Regions from separate parts of the Homo sapiens genome. Here region 1 is linked to region 2. Evidence: fine-mapped expression QTL. Tissue or cell type: whole blood. Region 2 holds a variant in brackets; the other region holds the start of a gene. All regions are shown on one strand. Distances are from middle to middle.

What was found. PIP is the estimated chance that this variant, and not a neighbour inherited with it, causes the effect.
Region 1: LRRC56 starts here. The variant in region 2 is fine-mapped to the expression of LRRC56 in whole blood (INTERVAL, PIP above 0.99).

What each region holds. Positions count from the first base shown.
Region 1 is chr11:536,150-538,649 of GRCh38, forward strand. LRRC56 (leucine rich repeat containing 56) reads left to right here and starts at 1,378. Exons shown (of 14, transcript NM_198075.4): 1 at 1,378-1,456; 2 at 2,449-2,500. RefSeq lists an enhancer at 1-86.
Region 2 is chr11:427,138-429,886 of GRCh38, forward strand. ANO9 (anoctamin 9) reads right to left here. Exons shown (of 23, transcript NM_001012302.3): 10 at 2,621-2,681; 11 at 2,433-2,515; 12 at 1,585-1,689; 13 at 1,338-1,502; 14 at 1,221-1,257; 15 at 951-1,062. Among named protein-coding and RNA genes, the nearest start is that of ANO9, 13 kb to the right of the region's middle. RefSeq lists an enhancer at 1,409-2,608. The variant T/C (reference allele first, on the strand shown) is at 1,352.

The DNA.
Region 1 (2,500 bases), 110 kb after region 2:
CTTGCAGCCCCGGTGGGGTTCCGGGCGGCGGGCGCAGCCGTGTGCCCTGGGGCCAGGCGTGAGAACGCCCCCTCCACCACTCTCCTCTTTCTCGGGCCTGCGTGGCAGGCGACCCTGCCCGCCCAGTCCCCCCAAACTTGAGGTTCCAACGCTGCAGAAGCTCAGCGTGGTCCAGTTAAACCGTACCCACAAGTTGCCACAGGGGAGCGAAGTGCCCAGGGCTCACCCCAAGCACATAGACGCACATCCTAGCTCTTTCAAACCCAAAAAGACATGTTTTTAACATTTTTTAAAATTGCAAAGGAATCAGAAATACATCCTCATTAAAAAACAAAAAGGGCCGGGCGCGGTGGCTCACGCCTATAATCCCAGCACTTCGGGAGGCCTAAGCGGGTGGATTACTTGAGGTCAGGAGTTCAAGACCAGCCTGGCCAACATGATGAAACCCTGTCTCTACTAAAAACACAAAAAATTAGTCGGCTGCAGTGGCGCGCGCCTGTAGTCCCAGCTACTCGGGAGGCTGAGGCAGGAGAATCGCTGGAACCCGGGAGGCGGATGTTGCGGTGAGCCGAAATCGCGCCACTGCACTGGGCAACAGAGCGCTACTTCGTCTCAAAACAAAAAAGGCGTTTTACAGTCAGGCAAACCCTGCCTCTGCCCAGTCCAGCGCCCGCCTCGCCCTCCTGCGCCGGTCGCTGCTGACCCGGGGCTCCACCCACGTGCGGTCCCGGGGGTCCCGCCTGCCGTCCGTCCACCGCGCGGTCGCAGTCAGAGCTCGGCTCGGGGCGGACACGCATGAACGCGAGTGAGAAGCGGCGACTGGACGGCGGGCGGCAGCGTGTCCCGCGGGCCGGGCACTCGGGTGCGCTCCGGCGTCCGGTGTGTGTTTCCTGGTCCTCGGGGGCGCTTCCCCCGGTGCTTCCTTTTGCCGTCGGCCTCACTTCCAACCGAAGGTCAGGACGGCAGGCCTCGGCCCCAGGGGCGACCCTTCCACCTGGGAAAGGTGGGCGCGAGCCTCCAGCAGAGACCGCCTTTACCCGCCCCGCGTGGGAAGCGCCAGGATCGCGAGGAAACGCGACACGTGCATCGCGACGGCCCAGGCACGGAGCCGCAGGAAGCTGGCACCTGACGCGCCTGCGCCCACCCAACTCGAGTTGGTGGCGCGTCACCTTCCCCTGGGATCGCCCGCAGCAGGGGCGCCCACGCACGTGCCAGTCCACGTGGCCCCGCCCTAGCGACCGTTGCTAAGGGGCGTGGCTCAGCCGCACGGAACCCGAGCCCCCGGCGACTTATAAATATTTGCGTATTCAAATGAGGCCTGGCTCCCGTTGCTATGGCGCCCAGGCCGCAACCCCGCGGCGGCCGGAAGAACAGCCTGGAGTAGGAGACAGCGCCTGGAGGTGGAGGGCGCCCAGGGCCGAGCTGCCAGGGCCGGACACCTAGGCTGAGCCCTCAGGTGAGAGCCGAGCGCACCCTTGGGGTGGGAGCCGCAAGCCTCGCCCTATGACCGGTGCCAGGAGGGAACCTGCGCCGAGGCGTGGGCGCGGGGACGAAGCAGCACAGCCATCGGGGACCCAGTGATGGCCCCGCATGTCAGATCTGGTCCCCTGAGGACCCTTGCCTCCACCACCCCCTGGCCCTGCACTGAAAGGGCTCCCTGTCAGGAGACAGGAGGGGCCCCAAGCCCTGCCCCTGAGGGAGACTCAGAGGCAATGACCCAGGGTGCTCAGGGTTCCAGGGTGGGGCTCAGGAGGGGAGCGGGCTCTGCCTTCCGAGCCCCCATGGTGAAGGGGCGAGGGCAGCAGGGGACCCAGAGGTGATGGCTACCCACCAGGGAATGGCACTAGCAGGGGTGTGGAGACAGGCCCCCCAGTTACCAATTTGGGGAGCATGGGGGCTTGCAGAGGGGACACAGGGTGGGAGCAGGGCCGTGAAGTGTGTGGATGGGTTCAGGCCTGGGTGAGAACACTAGGTGCAGTGTCTGAGGTGGGAGTTCAATGGGGTCTTTGGATCCCACAGCCTCCAACCCCTTGCACCCCCAGGCCTTGGGGCTCAGACCAGTCTGATGCTTGGGGCTCTTGGGCACAGAGGAGACAAGGGTAGCTGACTCAGCCCTTAGTGTCACCCATAGGTGTCCAGGGGCTGCCCGTGACCCCGCCAGCTCACGCCCTCCATGAGGCTCGAGGCTGGCAGGCCTGGGATGGAGGTGGCCAGAGTCTTTGGGGGGATGCAGTGTTGGGGTCCTGCTGTGAGGCCTGGGGCCTTGCACTGGCTGGAGAAAGGCAGGCAGTGGGGGAGATTTGGGCTGGAAACTCCATGAGATTCTGCTTTGGGCTTCACTTCTTTGATCCTTGGTGCATGGTCACCTTCCAGACCAGGCCAGTGAGGCACCCAGAGCCTGAGCCACTGCCCCGCTCCAACACTCCCACCCACCACCTCTGTCAACAGCCGGCCAACTCGCCTGGCACAGGGGCAGCTCTAGACGGGATGGAGAGGATGC
Region 2 (2,749 bases):
TCAGGAGCTCGAGACCAGCCTGGCCAACATGGTGAAACCCTTTCTCTACAAAAAATACAAAAATTAGCTGGGTGTGGTGGTGCGCACCTGTGGTCCCAGCCACTCAGGAGGCTGAGGCAGGAGAATTGCTTGAACCCAGGAAGCAGAGGTTGTAGCGAGCCAAGATCATGCTACTGCACTCCAGCCTGGGCGACAGAGCGAGACTCCATCTCAAAAAAAAAGTAAAGCTGCAGCCAGCATCCCTCTCACCTCGCCTTCCTAATTAGTGAAATGAGTCTTTCTGGCTCCATCAATCCATATGCACCTTTTTTTGGCCAGGTGCAGTGGCTCACGCCTGAAATCCTAACACTTTGGGAAACTGAGGCAGGAGGATCGCTCGAGCCCAGGAATTCGAAACCAGCCTGGGTAACACGGTGAGACCCCATTTCTACAAAAAATATTAAAATTAGCTGGGTGTGGTGGTGCACGCCTGTAATCCCAGCTACTCAGGAGACCCAGGAGGTCAAGACTGCAGTGAGCCAACATTGTGCCACTGGACACCAGCCTGGCGACAGCAAGACCCTGTCTCTGTCTCTCTCTCTCTCTCTCTCATATATACATGTATACGAGGATGTGTGGGCAGGCAGACCCAGGAAGACACCAAGTGCATTTTCAGCATAAAGAGCAGGTGCAGTTATTCCCAGGACAAAGCCATTTCTGCCAGTGCTGTTATGCGCCTGCAAATGCATGAAAAAGCCTGGGAGGCCACCAGACTGTCTTGATGCTACCTCGGGGCCCGGGATTCAGGAGCTGGGCTCACTGCAGGCTTTGCTCACATGTCTCTAGATTGGATTTCCACTTGCTCTCAGCAGAAATTACTTTTAAAATTAAAAGAATGGACATTGCCACTTTAAAGGCAGTGGAACAAGCCCTCGTGAGTTGGGTTGGAGGGAGCCTGGCGCCGGCCCTACCTGCCCAGGATGAAGGCGATGTAGATGAGAGACGAGAAATGGGTGAAGAACTGCAGTGTGAAGAAGCGGATGGTGAACCTGCTCTCTCGCTCCGAGAAGGTCCTGGGCATCTCTGGAATGGGACCGGCCCTCACCTCTCTCCCTGCTCATAGGAGAGGCCCTGGGGCAGCAGGAAGGGTCCCCTCCCCTGCTCTCTGACCACAGCCCCAAGGCCCCAGCCCTGAGTCCTCCCGCCGGGTCCCCCAAGAGGGTCTGGGGTAGTCCTCTCACCGAAGTCACAAAGCTTCAGGGCCACGCACCTGTTGATCTGCGGAGGAGGGCACCGAATGGGCTCACTGGGGCTCCGGTGGACCCCCCAGCTCGGGCCTGCCCTGCTCCCGGCCCCACCTTGGTCATGATGA[T/C]GATGGTCACATAGTGCACCAGAGCCCCGGTCACCACCACGGCCGTGGTCACCTGCTCCTCCAGGAAGGGCACGGCCGAGCTGCTGAAGAGCGCGGAGGCCAGGACGCGGTAGACCACCAGGACGTGGGCCATGCCGATCATGAGGCAGATCTGCGGGACAGCTGTGGTGGGCGGGGGCCGGGGAGGGCATGCAGCCCGGGTCTCCAGCCCCACCGCGGTGTCCCCTGCGTACCATGAGCAGGGTCAGGACGAGGATGACGGTGCTGCGTAGGTAGGAGTGCTGGTATGGCCGGAGCTTGTAGTCGGGGCAGTTAATGAGCTGAAGTGCCATTTCCTCCTGGGGAGAGCACCGGGCAAGCCTCAGACAAGGGACACTCACCCCACATGTGGGGAGACAGACACAGAGACACACCTCACGGGTGGACAGACACGGGACACTCACCCCACACATGGGGAGACAGACACGGGACACGCACCCCACACGTGGGGAGACAGACACAGGGACACGCCTCACGGGTGGACAGACACGGGACACTCACACCACACGTGGGGAGACAGACACAGGGACACGCCTCACGGGTGGACAGACACGGGACACTCATCCCACACGTGGGGAGACAGACACAGGGACATGCCTCATGGGTGGACAGACACGGGACACTCACCCCACACGTGGGGAGACAGACACAGGGACACGCCTCACGGGTGGACAGACACGGGACACTCACCCCACACGTGGGGAGACAGACACAGGGACACACCTCACGGGTGGACAGACACGGGACACTCACCCCACACATGGGGAGACAGACATGGGACACGCACCCCACACGTGGGGAGACAGACACAGCGACACGCCTCACGGGTGGACAGACACGGGACACTCACCCCACACGTGGGGAGACAGACACAGGGACACGCCTCACAGGTGGACAGACCAGGACACACGCCCCACATGTGGGGAGACAGACTCGGGACACACACCTCAGACACGGCAGGCATATGTGGGCCGTGCAGGGCATCGGGCGCCAACAGCCCCTGCTCGGGTCGGCCTCAGCTGCGCTGCCAGCTCCACCTCACCTGTTCCTCGTCCCACACGTACAGGTCCCAGTGCAGGACCACGCGGGCGCGCTGCCGCTTCCAGATCTCCAGGAACACCGTGGCTGCGGCGGGGGCAAGGAGGGGCATCACTGCACTACGCCAGGTGGACCTCGGAGCTTGGGCTGGCACTTCCCCTGGCCCCGCAGAGGCGTCCCGCAGCAACTCACCCCAGAGAGCCATGAAGATGGCGAACACCACCGTGCCATCATTGTCAAAGAGGTGGGTGAGCTGGGGGGGTGATAGGTGGGCCGGAGAGGAGGTGGGTGAGCTGGGGAGGGGGGCAGGTGAGCCAGGGA